2 separate regions of the Homo sapiens genome follow, and region 2 is linked to region 1. Evidence: fine-mapped expression QTL. A gene starts in region 1. The other region holds a variant in brackets. All regions are shown on one strand. Distances are from middle to middle. Region 1 holds the start of AJAP1 (adherens junctions associated protein 1). Region 2 overlaps AJAP1 (adherens junctions associated protein 1).

Region 1 (9,777 bases):
ATAGTCAAGATAGAGAACGTTTCCATCACAACAAGGAGGCCTGATGTTGCCCTTTTGTAACCACACCCTCTTTCCTTCCGTTCCCCACTCCTTCTTTGACCCCTGGCAACTACTCATCTGTAGCAGTAGTAGTATGAGTATTGTACCACGTCTATAATTTTGTCATTTTGATGCAGGGCCGGCATGCCCCAAAGTGAGGCTTAGACCATGAGGGTTCTCGGCTTTGCCCAGAAAAGAATTCAAGGGCAAGCCAGTGGTAGAAGAAAAACAGCTTTATTGAGGAGGTGTTCCAGCTCTGGTGGTGTGGTGGTGTTACCGGTCCGGCAGTGTGACAGCTCCGTGTCTGCCGCTGCAGAACAGGGCTGCCCCATAGGCAGCGTGCTGAGAGTAGCAGCTCGGGGCAGCTTTGCAGTTGTATTTATACCTACTTTTAATTCCACGGAGATTAAGGGGCGGTTTATGCAGAAATTTCTAGGGAAGGGGTAGTGATTTTTGGGTCATCAGGTCATCGCCATGGAAAGGGCAGTAACTACTGGGTGTTGCCCTGGCAATGGTAAACTGACATGGCACATTGACGGGCATGTCTTATGGAATGGTGCTTCCATCCTGTCCCTGTTTTAGCTAGTCCTCAATTTGGTCCACAGTCTGAGTCCCACCTCCAGAGTCAAGTCCCATCTCCTACCTCAATTTCAATGCTATGAAATCATCATATAGTAAGTAACCTTTTGGGATTGACCCAGGAGTAGCCAGTCCTCCTCTCTCCTCCTGGTGCCTGATCTTATCCCAGCTCTGAGGCGGATGTACTTGGGGACACGCCCAAGGGCCACCAGAGGTCTGACATGGACACCCTCCAGCCTGACTCTCTATTCAAGGCAGATTAACTGAGAGTTAATCTGAATTATGTAACCACCACCACTCCCTGCTCCGAGGCCTCATGACTCACCAGCCCCTTTGAATTCCTGGAAGGGGTCTCAGAGGAAGAAAGAATGGAGTCGACTGTACCACGTTTGCCTGCTCTAGCCCCAGAAAGCCCCTGCTCCTGTCTCCTCCTTGTGTCTGATTGGCATCAGGCAGGAGAAACCCTCTCAAGCCAGACTTCAAATGTAAAATCTAGATCAAGGATATATTTGGCTTTCCAAGCTAATCTTTACATCAATTTGGTCTCTACTGACTTGTAACCCTTTGAAGAAAACTTGGCAACTACGTATTTAAAACAGATGACTCTTATATAACCCCTGAGAGGAGCCCCTGGGCTCTTGAAGGCTCAGCTGTTTGCAATCCAGTCAGGGTTTTGTGTTTACCTACTTCATTGTAACCCAGGGTCACACTCCAGGTACCCTGTGGCTTTCCCACAAAAAGCTCAGGGAAATGCAGAACCCAGGAGCACACAGGGCCCCACCTGCCAAACACCCCATTTGTGTGTGGGTCAGAGGGACTGGCGCTGTGGAAGTGGAGACTGGGTTGGGGTCCAGAAGCACCTCCAGCGACCCCCGCTAGAAAGACGCAGGTGCATGCCTTGGAGAAGCCGGCGCTGCTCTGCCTCCAGGGACCCAGAGACAGCTGTCCCCGGCAGGCGTGGGGCTGTCTCCATTCCTGAGCTGCGTTGCCCTGCTCCCCTCTCCAATGCATGGAAGAAAAGGAAGCAGGTGATCAAAGTAAATAAACAACAGGGACACACTGGGAGGAGTCTGCCATCAGCTCCTCCACTTGGCCAGTGTATCCCCAAGGTGGGGGTGAGCATGAAAGGGGGGTATGTACCGATGTTGCCCAAAGATTTGAGCTGCCTCCTAAATTTGCAGTTTAGTCAAGCATGATTGTCCCCGAGGAGTAGCACAGCCGCTGACACTAGATAGATTCCAGTTGCAATCAATTTAGTAGCAGCAGCTGGAAATCGGCGCGAGCCAGGATTCACCCGGAGCGCAATGTTTGTGGACTGCGCGTTTGACTTCATCCGCTAAAGCTGGGCTGCACAGCCCCAGCTGCCTGGGGACTCTACAGCGAGGATGGTGACAGCCAAGCCAATGGATCCCTGCCATGAGGCCCAGACATGGTACAGCGCGCACTGAGAGGGCTTGGGGAACTGTGAATTATGTCAACACACACACCCAGGGCCTCCCAAACAAAAGGGGCCCCAGAACCTTGGAGCGGGAGAACAGATGGGATGGCCGCAGGGACATGGGCTGGGAATGAGCTCGTGGCACTCTGCTAGGGATCACAGTCCTGAGCGCAACCCAGCAAACGTATTAGGTGGACGCTCGGAGCCCCTGAGGAAGCCACAGCATCTGAGGTCTGCAGCCTGGGAAGCAACTCACAACCAGGAAGCCAATTCCAAACTCTGGGCTGCTTGCTGAGTACGCGCCCCCTCCACGGGTGAGCTCTGAGCTGCTTGCTGAATACGCGCCTCCTCCACGGGTGAGCTCTGGCAGGGCTTGTCAAGCCACTGGGTCTCCTTCCGTGGCTCCCTCTCTCTCAGCTGATGGAAAGTATCTTTGGAGCTCTGCTACAACTATTAAATGCCACCGCAAAAGACACAAAAGCTGCTCAATAAGTCTCAATCTGCTTCTCCCTCTTGGGGGGAAAAGAAAAAAAAAAAGCTCCACATACAGCTCAGTTCCAACACAGACGTAAATAACCAAGCCCAGACTTCGTCTCTGGGGCCGGAACTAAGAAAGCCCACCCCACCCCCACCCCCACCCCCTGCCCAGCAAGTTACACTGCACCTCTCCCATGGTGGAGCAAGCCAGGCCTTCTGCCACCCCAGCTGGAGGCTCAGTGTCTACCTGTCCTAACCAGGCTCCAAGCTTGGCAGCAAGACGCCCAGTGCTCACCTAGGGAGCCGCGGAGTGGCTTGCAAGCAAAGGTGAAGGGCTGTCTTGAAAGAAAAAGTGCATTTCCAGACCTTGAACTTGCAACCCTTTGGCTCAGAGTCCCCAGGTGCCCATTGTGATGCAAAACCACCCAGACCCTCTGGGTACAGGCCTCCTTCTCTGGCCAGGAGACAGCAGTAACAAGACAGAGCTCTCCCATCAGGATCCCAAATAGGTGACAGCTCGTCCTTAAAGGCACACTTACAGAAAATCTCCTGTGCTGACATCGAGGGGGGAAAAACGAAAGGTCAAACTTCAAAAGAACCAACAGAACTATTTCCTAAAGCAAAATCCCAAGATCCGGCTTGAGGATGCTTGAGAGGAACTGTTTTAGTAAATTTCAAATCAAAAGAGAGGCTTCTTTCCAAGATATTTGCTCTTCTCTCCCTTTATCAAAATGTACTCATCTTTTAATCTAGCAACTTAGCAATAAAAAAAAATGTCTGTTCAAATAAGTTGCCATCAGGAATCAAGTGGCAGCTCAGGAAGCAGGTCGGAGCTGAAGACCAGCCACTGGCCAGTGTGGGGACCCGTCTGGTCATTCACAAAGCCTTGGAAGGTCTTGCTGAGACCTGGGACAGTCCGGGGCAGAGCAGGGGATGGCAGGCCTCCAGGGCACCTGGATCAGGGTCATTCCTGCAAAGCTGTCCTCGCTCCATTTTGCCAACATCCCACAACGGTCCAAGCCTAAACCTTATCTAGCCCAAGCACACTTATCGATTCACGCCCGACCAATATCCCACACCCAACACAATCGGCTCCATGATTAACCTTTGAAGCCCACAGCAAGATCGGCCACTGAGAGAAGGGATGCTAATAATAACATCTGACAATGTTCACTAGATGTGTTACACAGTATTCACCTCTGGGAGCAGAATCGGCTCATAAATCAAGGGTCGCTAGAAAACACTTGGCGTCCCAGTCCCCTTCCGATTTCTCAAAATCAGGACACGCACTAGATCCTCCCTCCCTTCGCCTCACTCCCCCCGCAGCTTCATCCCTGAGTGGGGGCGGCTCAAGCAGCGGGCTAACAACTACTGGCCTTTTCGTCCCCAACGCGGGAGCGCAGTGCATCCCAGTGGACAAACTCGAGAACCGCACGCTGCTCTCCGCCTCCACCTCTGTCCTCCCCGCTCGCGGTTCCAACCCGGGACCCAAATGCACGAGCTCGGTGAATGCCCCGGCAGGAGGGCGAGGGCTCAGAGGCAGCCTGCCCAGCAAAAACGACAGCTGTGCTCTGGTGGGCCCTGGGCCACCCCAGGCAGAAGCCAGAGAAGCCCGAGAACCCCGGCGGGCTGGCAAAGTTTGCCGAGAAGGGTCTTTCTGGACACCCCCACCACGGGCTCTAGGCTCGAACCCCCTCTTCCATCTGGCCCTGGAGTCCCAGACACAGACAAGCCCCGGGCGCGCCGGCGGGCGTATGTGCGTGTGTGTTTACAGCGGGGTGGCCGCCGGAGCTCCCCAAGAACCCCAGCTCTCCCGCCCCAGCTGCCCGCCAGCTGTGAGCGCCCGTCGGGCCCGGAGGTCACCCGCAAACAGCTGGGTCGGCAGCTGGGAGCCTGGGAGGCCCCTGCTCAGCCCCGGGGCCCCGAGAAAGGAGAAGGGGGAGCGGAGTGGCTGTTTGGCTGTGGTTTCCTCCAACTCCGCCTGCGAAGCTCTCGCTGGGAGCCCGGAGCTTTAGCTTTCCCCGGCAGCCCCGGCCCCCGCGCCCGCCGCGCCCAGCGGCCGGCGCCTCGCCCCGGGCCCCGGGGAGGAGGCGCGCCGGGGCAGCCGGCCAGGACACTGCGCTGCTGGCTCCTAGAGCTGCGGGCGCGCCTGGCCGGCCCCACTTCCCGGGTTGCTGGGGCGGGCGCCGCTGCCCCGACCCCGGACGCGCGGAACCCTGGAGACCCGGCCGCTCCCCGCCAGGGCCGCGGTGCTGCTCCAGGCTCCGGGCGGGCGCCCCTTTCCGGCTACCGGTGCACCCCGTTGCCCGCTTGCGGGAAGCGAAGAGGGGTCCCTTGATTTGCAACATAGAGGAAAGCGCCGCTTCCGCCCAGCCTGGCACCCACGCGCCCACACGCACCCGGCGCCGGCCGGGTCGCTCACCTGAGTCCTAAAAGCTGTTGAATCCACATGGTCACGTTTCGGGGAGCGGGGCCTCAGACCTGGCTCGCCCAGGCCATCTGCGCGGCGCCCGCGCCCGCTCGCTTCCGTCCCGCGGCGCCGGTCTCCGGCTCTCGGTCCGCCGCCTCCCGCCGCCCGCCGGCCGCGGGGCGCACAGCGAGTCAGAGCGCGGCCGCGCGGGGCTCCATGCCGGCCGGCGCGCCGCCGCCGTTGGGGCGCATGGCTCAGGCTGGGCGGCCCGCGGGGGCGCACATCCTCCGGCCGGGGCGCGGGGCTCGCGGCCCCCTCCGCCGGCGGCACAGCGAAGGCGGCAGCGAGGCGGGGCGTGTTCCGGCGCTGTCGCGGCGCAGCAAAGGGCTGGGGAGCCGCGGCTTCGCCCTCCGGGGCGGCGAGGAGGGAGGCCGGCGGCGCTGCCGCTCACGGTGCGTGTCTCCCGGCGCGCGGCTCTTGCCTCCAGCCGGAGCTCCGCGCCGATGGGGCGGCGCTGCTTAGGGTTTGGGGTGACGCGACGCGGACGGACGCGAGTCCCCTCCGCGCTGCCGGGTCGGGGGGCTCTGCCAGAGGCTCCGCCGCCGATCGGCGCCACTCAAGTTGCCCGGGGGCTCCGTCTGAGCGCTCGCTCTGCAGACGGCCGCGGCCCGGAGACTGGCAGGAGGCGGGCACGAGAGGCGCGCGGGGCGAGGGCGCCGTGGAGCGCGGGGCGTGGGGACGCGCGGCGGCGGCGCCGCGCGGAGGAGGCGCGCGGGGATCCCGGGGCCCCGCCGCCCGCGCCCACCGCGCCCGCCGCAGAGCCGCCCGCGCTGCTCAGCCGCCTCCCTCCTCGCGTCTGCCTCTCCGCGCGCTCGCCCCCGCCTCCCGGAGCCGGTCCCAACTCCGCCCGCCCGGCCCGGCTCACGTCACCCGCCTTCCCCGCCCCTCGAACGGGAGCTCGAGCCCCTGGCCTGGCCCCGGCTCCTGCTCGCCGCCCCACCTTGCGGGGGCCGGGGTCGCCGCGGGTGGTGGGGGGCGCTGTGCCCAGCAGGGGCGACAGCGCAGGCGGGGCCTCCTGCAGCCCCCTTCCCCATCCCCGGTCGCGTCCCGGTCCCCACCTTGCGAAAGGCTCGAGAGAGGCCGCAGGCTAGGATTGGACCGCCGGGCGCCGCCGGATGGTGTTGCCAGGGTAACCGGATGGCACGCGAAGCCGTTCGAGGTTCCGACCCGGTTACGGGGGCGCCCAGTGGACCCGGAGAGCTACTTTGGGGAGGGGGCGGCCCCGAAGAAGGACTGGGTGGGGGCGCATGGAGCGGGGGCTGCGCGAAAAGTTTCCTGGGGCGGAGCTGAGCCACGCGGGCCGCGCAGGAGCGTCTGTCCGAGGGTCGCCTACGAGGGACTCCTCTGCTCGGCTGCGCGGGCTTCTGCGTTGATGAAGTCACCGCGTTCCGGGTCGGAGCTTCGGCGCTTCTGCCCCGAACCCAGCGAAGCCCGGTCCTATGCCCCCAATTACCCAACGGTCCCTCATCGCCCAGCGCAGCTGCTGCCTGGCCAGGCCCTTGCTCCGGAGGAGTCACTGGAAAGTTCCAGGGAATCTGGGCCTCCCGGACTCTCCACCGGCGTTTCACTGCTCCCTTCCCATGCCAGGACTCCTCTGTGCCTACCTGGTTAGTCTGTATTTGCAAAAAACAAACAAAAACAACAACAAAAAACAAATGGGGGGCACTTAAAGGAGGACAGACGCTGGGCGGGGACCTTTCACTGAGAGAAGTGACATGGGGCGGAATCCTCTGCAGACCCGCTGACGCCTTGAGAAACCACGGCAAAACCCTGCTTTTAATCCTCCACAGGCTGAGGGCAGTGCAGAATCCGGGCCTTGGAAAGGACACTGGTGCCACCCTTCACTGGGGAAAGGTGCAAGGGGCGGGGGATATACCATGCCGAGCCTTCGCTCTGTGCTCTGTGCAGGTGCTTGACCCAGGCCAGCTCTGGAATCGCCCCAGGCCATGTGAGAGCCGTGGGGGGTGAGAGGGGCGGGAAGCACTTCACAGGTGAGGCCTCCCTGGGAGGGGCAGCCAGTGAGGGGGTGGAAGGGCAGAGCCAGGAGGACCATGGCTTGGGGCTCAGTCTCCCAGGCGAACCATAGCTTGGGGCTTAAGTCCCCCAAGCAGCCCTTTCACCCCCAGGCCTCCAGGATCTTTGCCAACGGTCTTGAGGAGCCAGGCACAGGATTGGACTCTGCCCGGGCAGGAGGATGAAGACAGTGACTTCCCCACCAAGACTCCCGGCAGAGGGCCAGAGGCAGGGAAGTGTGGTGGCAGGAGGGCCAGCCTTGCCGTGGCTGGACCAGGGGCCAGCGCTTGCTAACTCGGGGTCCTGGCCGAGTTGTGTGGCCTCTCCGACCCTCGGTCTCCTCATCTGTAAGATGGGTCCCACAGCCCCTCCCCGGGGAGGTGTTTGCAGGGCTCCATGAGAAGGCCTTACACACACTGTGGCTATGGTGATCTGTGAGCCGGTCAGAGGACCCGAGAGGCAGCAGGGTGACTCAGCAGTTTCCCTGCCGGGCCGCCCCTGGGTCATCGTCCCCTAGAGCCTCTCCCTGAGGGGTGTGAGGGAGCGGATCCCATTAAGAGGCGAAGGAGGCAGGGAGGTCCTGGAACCAGCGGGGCCTATGGCGGCCGGCGGGGAAGGAGGCGCCGGCAGTGCTGCCACCTAGCGGTGTGAGGAGGCGGTGCTGCACCAGGGAGGCCCTTCCTGCAACCGGAGTGGGCCTGGAAGGGGCCGGCTTCGCACACTAGGAGCCAGCAGGGCAGGGAGGGGCTCCGGACCGGACCGTGTCGGCTCCAGGAACCCCTTGGGCAGCCTTGTGGACACCTGCTGACCTCTCTCAGAATGGCTTCTAAGTGCATAGATGAAAAAGCCCAGGATTATTAGGAAACCAATTCTATGCAAATGCATTATCAAAAGAGTAATAAAAACAAATTTCTGATATAGCCGTATATATTATTTATTAATACACTTAGTAAGCAATTGACAGATCCTAAATTACGTTCCTTTTGAAGTCCAGATATGCAGCAATAATATCCTGAGGTAACTGCAGCCATGGCAGTGTGATATGGAAATGCCAGTGCTTTCTATGTTTGACGGTCACAGGCACTGAGCTCTGCCACCGACATTGATAATGAAAGGAAATGCCAAGTCTCAGTTAGGGTTAAATAAAGATGCCAGTTTTCCCCCATACGAGTTGAAAGACCCTTTGAATTCTATCCAAGTACCCTGGGAATCTCTGGACAAAGAAAATAGTAGAAGGAAGTGTTTTCTGACAACCGAGATGGGAACAAGCCCTGCAGAAGTCTCCAGGCGAAGTCAGAGCCTTAAGACTACAGCTGCTGCCCCGGGTGAGTGAGGGCTTCTTCAGTCTATGGGGACGGAGGATGCCCTCTGCCCTCACCCAGGCTTAAAATTAGGATTTGGGACCAGGGTACACTGATTTCCTTTTTCTCTAGGGTAACTCAGGTCTGCCTCTCTCCAAAAAGAGCAATCCACCTATTATTATTATTATTATTATTATTATTATTATTATTGAGATGGAGTCTCACTCTGTCACCTGGGCTGGAGTGCAATGGCATGATCTCAGCTCACTGCAACCTCTGCCTCCCAGGTTCTCCTGTCTCAGCCTCCTGTCTCAGCCTCCCGAGTACCTGGGATTACAGGTGTGCACCACCACGCCCGGCTAATTTTTGTATTTTTAATAGAGACAAGGTTTCACCATGTTGGTCAGGCTGGTCTCGAACTCCTGACCTCAGGTTATCCACCCACCTTGGCCTCCCAAAGTGCTGGGATTGTAGGCCTGAACCACCGCGCCCAGCTTATTATTATTATTTCGATGACAAAATCATTGTCTTTTTTTTTTTTTACAGACTGTAAAACGACAAAACCTTAACTTGCATTTCAGCATTTCTAGAACTGGTTTTCTATACATTGATGGCTCTCATATTTCTAACTGGTTCATTTTTCTTCCCTTGGGGATTGGGAAGCTGTGTGTATGTCACTCCCACCCAACACACACACACACACGCGTGTGCGCGCGCACACACACACACACACGCCTCCCAGCTTCGGCGATACAAAAGGGAACTGTTCAGATGTTCATGCTGTGGAAAGTTCTTCCGGTCACCCTGCTAATTCTGGCCCTTTCTCCCCGCTGGGGGAAGTCCACAGCCTGGAACCCTGGGGAACCCCTGCGGTCTCCTCACCTAGTCCCCTCCCCTATTTTCCCAACAAAGGAGCCAGCAGGCCCCTGCAGGAGGTCCTCTTTGAAGCTCTCTGAGGCCATTTATCTAATGGCCTTCACAGACTTGACTATTTTTAAAACCCATCCAAAGCCAAATTGAGCTGCCATTGTTCATTTTTCTCCCAAGGAGGTAAATGTGTCTTAACCATGACATTTGATTAAGTAGCTAAGTTTGTGATTTTAAATGGAAGGGAAAATGCTGATTAAAATTATTATAAGTTTCTTGAAAGCATTCACAGGAGTGTCTTCCCTGACTCTCCTATCTTCCTGGCTACCCCCCTCCCAGTAAAACTTGCAGGAAGCTCATGGTTGTCGGGGGCAGGGGGAGTGACGCAAAGTCGCTTTTCCTTCTCAGGGAGGTTATATGCTGGAGATTTGGGGTTTCCTCCCCCTGGCACCTGAGCTGTTTCCTGGGTGAGGCTGCACACAGCTGCACTACACGCATAGCTGAGCGCAAGGCAGAGACCAAGCCTTGGGGCAGAGGTGGGAGCCAAGAAGCTGTACTCCCACCCACAAAATGACTCACAAGACAATCATCCT
Region 2 (9,777 bases), 55 kb before region 1:
CACTGCACACGGCCTATTTCTAAGCCTCAATTTTGCTGGTGAAGAAAAGAAAATCAGGAGAGGAGAGACCTTTTCCAGGGTCACACAGTGACATGCAACAGAGCCCAGATTCTCTCCCAGATCTTCAGCCTCAAGGCACCTGCTAACTAACTGCAGCAATTCATGGCCTCCCAGATTGCAGCTCTGGAGTCCCCAAGACCACTTCTGCTGCCTTAGATGTCTGAGAAGTGTGAGTAGTGTTCACGTTCCACCAAATGTTGGGGGCGCAGGTCTGCATCTGATGACTGCCAAGCAAGGGGGTTCCAGGGAGTTCAGCCCTCTGTCCCAGCACTCCTTCCATCTGGGGAAGCTTAAACAGTTGTTTTCCTCCCCCTGCCCCATCCCCCTCTACTTGGGACTTCAGATAAGGAGATTATGCAGCCTGTTCTCAGTAGCCTAAGCAAAGATCTCACCTCCTGCATCACCAGCAAGTACTTCCCAGTGTGTAACCTAAATTGTTCCTGCTCTGGTCTAATTCATTTACATGGTACCCACTGGGCTATGAGGAACCCAGTTAGGGGAATCATCCCCGCATTTCCTCTCTTCCCTTTGCCTTGGCTGGGAAGCTCAGGATGGTGGCCTAGCCCTGATGAGCGCTGCTGTAAACCACCTGTTCCCTTCCCTGTGGCCCAGCATTGCGTTCCAGAATTAACATTTCTCTGCATTAGAAACAAACACACATATTTTCCTCTTTTTAGATTTGTTTTGCTAAACAAATTAATCTAGCACCAGATTATATTATGAAGAACCATAAATCGCTTCCAAGATAAGCATCTGTCGAGATGGATTAGCAACATCCAATGCACTGTGAATTAATTTGCTAAGCCTACAACGCTGTCCCGGGTGTTTAACTTTAGTAATAACAAATGTAATTTGGAATAAATGGGAACTTGTTTCCTCATCCATGTCTATATAGTAAGTGACGTATACAGAGGAGGTGACAGTAAGGGAGAGTAGCAAGAAATCCTACTATGATGATGGCTGCTGAGTTTACTGAGGTAAAAATGAACACTCTGTAAACTGCTAGCAGGCGCCTGACAGTGCAGGATGAGCTGCAGACCCCGCATGTCCGTGGATTCCCAAAAGAGGCTGCATGGGAGGAAGCCGATGCAGGACCTCCAGAGTCTCTTCCTCCGGAGCCTCTTCCTCCAGAGCCTCTCCCAAGCCCACAGCCTCCATCTCTGGGCATGGCCCTCAGCATGCGCAGGGAGCCCAGGCTGTGCTTCCATAGAGACATTGCTCTCTAGGGAAGAGGAGCTCAGAAAAAAAACCGCAGGTTCTCTTGTCCAGGTGAAGGAAGAAAGTAGGTCACCGGCTGAAGGACAAAAGCCACCCACCCCATGAAAACCTGTCCAAGGACTGCCCGGTGCCTGCCTGCCCAAGATGAGGAGGAACCAGGGCCAGGACGCAGTCTAGTGAGGACGCAGAGGGCCTGGATGCCATGCCGGCCGCCTGCACATGAGCTCTGAAGAGCAGTTCTCTTCCCTCCCCTTGATTCTGCAGAGGCCTGGGTGGGGCCTACCGAGCCCACAAGCTGGAGGTTGTGGAAAGCAAGCTGTGAGGAGGCCACAGGGCGCCCCCGCCCACTTTGTACTGACGCCCTAAAATCTGCATCCGATTTTAAAGTTAGCAAATGTTGCTGTTTGTCTAGAATGTGTATGCACAGATCTAGGTTGTGAACTTCTGAGCCAACCTGGCACATCGGGCTGTGCCTGTTAACAGAGGCAGAGAAAACTGGAGGGAGGTGAGGGTGACGGGGTGCCCAGGGCTCTGCGCTCTCCCCGCAGGCCTGCTGTGAAGCCTGGTGACATCAGTGCAGGCTACCAGTTCAGGGACAAGCCCTGGCTTGGGAGATTTCCAAGGGCTACTCCTTTCAAAGCAAATGGAGGACAGCGTATAGGAGGAAAATAAAAAACAACAAAACTGCACAGAAGGAGATATTCCAAAGCCAGTGAACTGTGTGTGTCCACAGGCAGCTAGGATAACAGCAGCAGAAGAACCAAAGCCCTTTGTTCTGATCTCCGTCCTCCAAACACCCTCCTGACACATCCCCAGGGAGCCGAAAGGTGCCACCTGAATCACTGTCTGCGAAGGTTCTGTTAACACCGCAGGAAGTTCTTCCTTTTACCCAGCCTCGGCCTTTCTTGCTATTTAAGGCCATTCCTAATCCTCTACCGAGGTCAAGTTGGCAGGCACCCTGCCCCCGTCCATGCCCCCGTCCATGGGTCCCATACCCTTGAAGGCTTTTGAAGACTCTGGGGCGGGGGGATCCTTAATTGTATCACGAGACGGGCAAGCATCTTGCTCAAGGGCCGGCCCCAGAGACAAAATTCTCTGATTCTGGAAGGCGTGGCTGTGTGTGGTGGATTCCACCGGTCTGTAACAGGGCTGCAGCACCTGGTGGATTCAGCTGGTCCCTAACAGAGGCACAAGGGGTGCAGCGCCCACTTCTAGGTACATACTAAAAAGGGAAACTCTCCCTTCTCACGCCCCCTTCCTCTAAGGCACAGCCTGTATTTGCCAGTCTACAGGCATGTGCAAGCTCATGGACACATCACGCCTGCATCTCCTGGAGCCTCCACACATAGCATCACCCAGGGACATCTAAGCATCTCTCCCGAGTCACGCTCCCAGCCCTCAACCCCAAGCAAACCCAAACCAGAAGAGAGATGGCTGTACCTGAGGCCTCCCCCAGAATCCTTGGGGGCTGGGTGACTTCCCCGTTGTTGCTGGGACTGGTGGAAGGCTCCGTTGTGCTAACCCCACCTGGGATCCTTCTCCGGGGATCCAAGGACTCGGTGAACCCCTTAGTCTGCAGCGTCATGGGGGTGGCCGTGGTGGTGGTGGTGGTGGTGGCGGCCACAGTTGTCTTCCGTGTTTGTAGGATGGAGACCGTGGTGGGGCCGTAAACGCCCGGAAATGTGTTGGACTCCAGGGCCTCCTCGTCCCCCGTGGGCCCCCAGGCGATGAACTCAGTCTCTGTGGTGGGCCGGCTGCCTCTGGAGTCGAAGCTGCTGAGACCGTCCCCCTGCAGGTGCCTCTTGCCCCTCCTCAGGAGGGCCTGCTGCTCCGGGGCCCCACCGGCCACCGCGGAGGACGAGGACGAGGACGAAGAGGCGAGGGAAGGGCTGGATTTGGCAGCAGCTGGGGGCTTGGCCAGTCCTGCCTTGGGCACGAGGGCGGCCGCCTGGTCCCGGGGCCTGTGGGCCCGTCTGGCTCGAGGCATCTGCATCTGCCCGTGGATCCGCTCCACTCGGGGCGGCCGGGGGCTCCACACCGGGGCCGGGACCCGCGCTGGCTGTCCACTCCTAAAACTCCACAGCCGGGGCGGCCGGGGCGGCGACCGCGGCAGGAGCCAGAACTCCGGCCCCGGGCCCAGGGCCTCACAGGCGGGCAGGTCCACGGCGAGCTGAAACATGGCTATCAGTATCCAGGCATGGCTTCCGAGGGGGCGGCCCGGCCAGCGGATGGACATGGAGCTGTGCGGGGGGGAAAGGAGAGAAGAGCGGTCAGTGGAAGCCCAGGAGGGGGACTGGGCCCCGGGGCCCTCTCTCTCCACCCCGCGCTGTGACAAGGACGCTCTCTTCTTCTGGAAAGAGCTCCTCCTAACTTCAAAAGGGAATCCGAAACCCTTCCTTCCTTTCCTTCAAAGGCTCACTCACGTGCAAGAACAGCGCGCGCTGCGAGGGTGCGGGGAGCTGCTTCCCGGCACCGCGGGGCTGAGGCGCCTGCCAGGCACAGAGCCGGCCGGTCGCCGAATAGTCCATTTCACGCGAGCGAAAACCGAGCCTCAGAAACCCCCAGCCTTTCAGGGCAGCCTCGACAAGATAACCTGAAAAGACCTGTGAGTCCCTCCTTCCTTTTGCCCATCACACGACGAGAGGACGTAAGTGAGAGGATGGCAGCAGCGGACACCGGCCTCCACCTGGGACCCCAGGGCCAGGCGCTTTCCTCTACATAGCCCAGGCCACCCCCCGCCCACTGGGGAAGCGCCTCTCCCCAGGTCTAGGAGGAGCGGAGGTTTCAAGCTTGAAACCTCGCAGCGTGAGCGCAGGCGCTTCCCAGCACCTACACCTGCCAGGCACTTGCACTTTGCAAACACCAGCCGCTCCCGCTGCCCCTCACCCAGAGCCCGGCATGCATATCGTAAACAGGCATCGCTTTAAATGCTCTGCATGGGAAGGCTTCTTACTTCTGGCCTCCTCTGGATCGTACTCAGGGAAATGAGATCTGCTCCGGATAAACCTAAAGTTTATTGACGCGAAGTGTCTGTTCTGTTGACATTTCCGCTCCCCCTGTTTATCTGCAGTGCCGGTGCCCTTTGAAACCCTGTTATCCACCTCCTCAGCTCCCCGGAGGGCTGCAGAAAGGGCAAATCCTGCGCAACCCTGAGGAGGGCGGGGCTGCCTCTCCACGCAGCGGGGCTGCAGGGGAGAAGTCAGGGCTGGCGGGGCGGCCCCTCCCCAGTTCACATGGAGCGGCTTTGTCACCAGGTCTGGGGTCGCCTCTGGACCAGTGGACTCTCTGGTGTCACATGAAAACCAGGGCGCGGCAGAGAGCCACGTGGAAGGGCTCAGAGGAGCCAGGCCCACGCTCCCTCTTCCACCAGCACAGATAATTGAAGACTGATTATAGGTGTCATTCAAAGTCAGTTCTCGTCACCAGCCTCACGTCTGAAAGTTAAAATGAATCCCAAAACTGTAATGACTGAAGCGGGTGGGGGGCGCGAGGGTGTTCAGGTGCCAAGCGCCAGCCTGACGCCGCCCAAAGCCAGGCCTGGAAAGCAGGTTGGGTAGAGTTTTTCTTTATAAGGCGGTGAGTGACTTCACAAAGGAAGGAAGCTGTGTGTGTCATTGTAATGCGTGCACGCAAGTGTGTGAGTGTGTGCGTGTAGGCAAGCACACGTATGTG[AGTGT/T]GTACGTGTGTGACTGGGTGTGAGTGTGTGCGTGTGGGTCAAGCTGTGTGAGTGTGCCAGTGTGAGAGTGAGCCAGCATACATGAGTGTAAAGATGCATCTGGGGGTGTGTCCACGAGTGTGAGAGACTGTGCGTGAGTGAGGGCCAGGGTGTCTGTGTGTATTTGGTGCGTGTGTGAGAGTGTACTGTTGTGTGACTGTGTCCATGTGTGTCAGCATAGAAGTGTGTGAGTGCATCTATGCTCGTGTGTGTCAGTGTGTATGAGTGTATCTGTGCGTTCCTGTGTGAGTGTGTCTGTGTGAGAGTATCTGTGTGTGTATTTGTGTGTGCAACTGTATCTGTGTGTCCCTGTGTGAGCATGCGAGTGTATCTGTGAGTGTCTGTGTGAGAGACTCTATGTGTGAGTGTGTCTGTGTGTGTCTGTGTAGGAGAGTTTAGTTGTAGCTGTGTGTGAACGCATCCCTGGGGGCACGCCCTCTGTTCAGTACTGAGACCCTTGTGTCTGGTGCTGACTCTCCCAGATATCTGGGGAACAGATGGCCCCCCAGTCATCAGGATGGTGAGAGAGAAACTCTTGCTAATGAGTGCTAATTACCAAAAAGGACTAATCCCCAAACAATAAGGCTTCAGTTTTTCAATCAGAATAGAAGTGCTTTGCTGCAGAAATGAGGACCTCCACATTATGCTAATCCTCAGCACGGTGTTTCTGCTGGTGTGCAATTTCTCTGCACTAGCAGCCAAGCTCGGGGCAGGGACCAGGGCCACTGTCACCACAAGGACGAATTTAGGTTAGGGTGAAATTCCCCCATATACACACTAAGGTAGCTCCTCTGTGGCTGCAGGTGACCCAGTGAGGATGGGAGCTGGTTTAGAATCTCTAATTCTCCCATGACCTGCAGAGCTGGGTGGGAGTCTAGCCCCAGGAAGATGAGATGCTGCTCTGAGCAGGTGCAGGGTCTCACCAGGCCCCACCAAGCCCCTTCAGGCTCCACCAGGCCTCACCAGACTCTGCCATGGTCTTCCAGGCCTCACCAGACCTCACCAGGCCTCACCAGGCCCCACCACACTCCACCAAGCTCACCAGGCCTTACCAGACTGCACCAGACTCCAACAGTCCCCACTATACTCCACCAGGCCCTGATTAGACCCCACCAGGCTTCACCAGGCCCCACTACACTCCACCAGGCCCCACCGGCCCCCATCAGGCCCCACCGGCCCCCACCAGGCCCCACCAGCCCCCACCAGCCCCCACCAGGCAGGCTGAATCAAAAGCCATGACAAGCAAACCTGCCTGCCATCAGTACTTAGAGAAATATTGCCCCAGGAAATTAAAACCATAGCACCTAAGCCCGTGCCTGCCTCGCTGGCATAACTTCACACACAGGATATTTCTGTGATTTTTCACCAATCATGGCTGTAATTGGTTACTATAGAAACCCCCTCATTTCTAAGACACCCAGCTGTTATGCAGAAAAACCAACCAATTGCAACAGTGGCAGGGAGAGGTCGATTTGTTTTTCCTCTTCAAGTCTGGTTTCTTCCTTTTTAAAGTGATTGATTTGTTCAGAGAGGAAAAAAAAGAGGGCAGGTGGGCAACCAGGACAGAGGCCCCAGCCCACTCCCAGCAGCCAAGAAATGTGGGGGGCAGGGGGAAAGCCCCTCCCATAGGAAGACGTGTAGGGGCCACTGCTCATTTCTGTGCAAGGCCAAGGGCCCCAGGCTCTGCATTGCCACCAAGACGGCTGAGCTTGGTGTGCTGCCCGGACCTGGTCCTGAGACTCTTGGGGACCCCTTGGTGAGAGGCTGCATCTCTGCAGCAGGAGGACTTGGCTCTATCTCCAAGGACCAGTGAGCAGTACAAACAATCTCTGTCCTCATCCCTTGGGCGGCTCTGAGATGAGGCAGAGCCTGGGAATACTCTTCTCACTGATCCTGCTCAGCCTGGGGCTTGGCCCTGAGCACCTCTCATTTCATGATGAACAGATTTCGGGAGGGCCTCACCCCATAGGGCATCCATGGCACTGTCAGACATGCACCAAGATGGCAGGCGACCCCACACCTCCTCTGGAGGCAGGCCCTGTGGCATGGCTGCCGACCACAGCACCAACCATCAGGAGGCGAGGCTGTGGGGCAGGCAGAAGTGGCACCAGCTCCCCTGAAACTCAAGCATCCACAGGCCCCTTAAGAACATACCGCCCGGCCAGACATGGTGGCTCACGCCTGTAATCCCAGCACTTTGGGAGGCCGAGGTGGGAGGATCACGAGGTCAAGGGATCGAGACCATCCTGCACAACATGGTGAAACCCTGTCTCTACTAAAAATACAAAAATTAGCCAGGTGTGGTGGCGTACACCTGTAGTCCCAGCTACTCGGGAGGCTGAGGCAGGAGAATCGCTTGAACCCAGGAGGCGGAGGTTGCAGTGAGCCGAGATCATGCCACTGCACTCCAGGCTGGAGATGGAGTGAGACTGCGTCTCAAAAAAAAAAAACAAAAAAAAAACGTACCGCCCACATCACACCCACAGAGAGAGCTACAAGCAGAAAGACAGAGAACATGAAGTGCTGGCGAGGACACGAGGAGATGAGAGACCTAGTATGCTGTTGGTGGGAATGAAAACCAGAATGCCTCTGGGCAAAACAGTTTGGCAATTCCTTGGAACCCTAAAGACAGAGTTCCAGGGACCCTGCTGCCCCTCTCTTAGGCACAGACATCTGTCCACATGAAAACCTGCACTGGGAGGCCCAGGGCCACACTCACAACTCACAACAGTCAAAGCTGACTCAGCTCACGTGCCCGTCAGCTGAGGAATGGATAAAGGGGATCTGGCATAATGTTACAATGGAGTATCGTTCAGCCTTTAAAAGGAAGGCAGGATTACTTGATCTATGCTACAATGTGGAAGCACCTTGAAAACCCTGAGCAGGGAAAGAAGCCAGGCACTCAAGGCTACACGGTGCCCGGTTCCGTTTATAGGAAATGCACAGAGTGACCAAATCCACAGAGACAGAAAGATGAGCAATTGCCCAAGGCTTGGGGAAGGGGTAATGGGGTAGGGGGTTTCTTTATGGGGTGACGAAATATTCTGGAATTGTGTGTGGGGGTAGCTGCACAACTCTATGCCTATACAAAACCCACTAAACTGTACATTTGTAATAGGTGAGTTTTGTGCAATGTATATCCCAATACAAATCAAAAGGAACATGCTAGAGAATGGGGTGTGTGCAAGGGTTGTGGGGACAATGTGGAGTGCATGGCGTGGCACCCTAATCCTGGCCCTGGCGGATGGGTGGAAGGCAGAGCGGCCCCCAGAGCTGCAGGCACATGGGCAGGAGGAAGCCATGGAGACTTTGGGTTCATCCACCCAGTCCTCACTGGGACACCCTGAACGTGAGACAGGGTCCCTGCCTGAGCACCTGAGGACCACATCCACACCCTTTGAGAAGAGGCAGGGACAGCTCCCTCTCAGCAGCCTCGAGCCCATGATTTTCAAAGAAAGAATAAACTCCTTGCCACCACCCCCTGCTCCCCAGCTGCTTCCAAATGGGGAACAACTGCTCCGTCTCACTTTATTTTCTAGTTTGTGGCTTTCTTGCTTCTCTTCCTTTTAAATTTTTATTGAAATCTTTTTTCCCGAAGAACAGTTTAATAAGATTTGGTGAATTGAGATTCAATTCACTACCTTCTGTATATTTTCTTCACAGAAGAAAATCACTGTCAATTAAGGGGCCAAAGACATCTCTTCCACTTAAAGTTGCACCTTTCCCCGAGCCGGGAGTGTGCGGCGTGAGCCTCCTGGGAGCAGCTGGTGTCTGCCTTGTGGGAGCACTGGTGCAGTGAGAAGCAGGCCAGGCCCTGGAATTGTTCCACCGGGGAACAGCCCAGAATCTTCAGGGTGGGACAGGACCTTGGAGCTGTGCCTGTGGCCAATCCACCCCAGCCGTTCCACGAAGACACCCACTTCCCGTGACTCCTCCAGGTCCTGTCGTTTACTGGCTCTGGGGCCCAGGAGAAGGATGCTGCATTTGATGGGGAAGTTAGCTTGGCATGGGCTTGTAGCTTCCCACTCTGCAAGCCCCAGTTTTTCTGTCATTCATACCAGTAAGTTGGGGCAGGTGGGCTCTGAGGTCTCCGCCTCCTCGTTGAAGAAGACCCGTGCTTCTACGATCAATAGTTCACAGGGCACCGCTAGAAACAATCTCCAGGAAGCAGAAAGAATAGACACAGACATATTTGTTCTATGACACAGCAGTGCCGTTGGCTTTTTGTGAGTCCATGCTCTTTTGTGGAAGGCCCCACCCAGGAAGTGGACCTCCCTTCCCCGAGGACCCAGGGTCTACCCCTCGGTCCCCAATGACCCGTGTCCAGATGCTTCCTGACTTCCACCCTACTTCTATTGGTTTGCTTCAAAAAAGCTTTTTATTTTAGAATAGTTTAAGACATTCCAAAAAATTCCAAAAGAGCCCAGAGAGTTGCTGGGAACTCATCTCCAGTTTCCCCTCAAGGGATACCGTAGGTCACCATGCCACAGCGTCATGGTGCATAACCAGGAACTACACACGTGGCTTGGACTTCTCCAGTTTGCACTTAGCTTAGCGTCCGTTTTCAGTCCCAGGAACCCATCCAGAATACCACGTGGCATCAAATGGTTGTGTCTCGTTTGGCTCCTCTTGGCTGTGATGGTTTCTCAGGCTTTCTCTGTGGCTGATGACCTTGATGTTCTAAGGAGGACTGGTCAGGGATTGCATAGAATGCTCCTCTTCATTGATTGATTGGTCTGAAGTGTGTCCCGTGATGAGACCGGCCTTCTGTGTTTTGGGGGATG

The links. PIP is the estimated chance that this variant, and not a neighbour inherited with it, causes the effect.
Region 2: its variant is fine-mapped to the expression of AJAP1 in whole blood (TOPMed, PIP above 0.99).

The regions. Positions count from the first base shown.
Region 1 is chr1:4,650,633-4,660,409 of GRCh38, reverse strand. AJAP1 (adherens junctions associated protein 1) reads right to left here and starts at 5,801. Exons shown (of 6, transcript NM_018836.4): 1 at 4,956-5,801. The coding sequence starts at 4,984. RefSeq lists an enhancer at 7,761-7,810.
Region 2 is chr1:4,705,641-4,715,417 of GRCh38, reverse strand. AJAP1 (adherens junctions associated protein 1) reads right to left here. Exons shown (of 6, transcript NM_018836.4): 2 at 2,719-3,518. Among named protein-coding and RNA genes, the nearest start is that of AJAP1, 56 kb to the right of the region's middle. RefSeq lists enhancers at 3,811-4,427, 4,428-5,046, 5,497-6,409 and a silencer at 9,271-9,465. The variant AGTGT/T (reference allele first, on the strand shown) is at 4,951.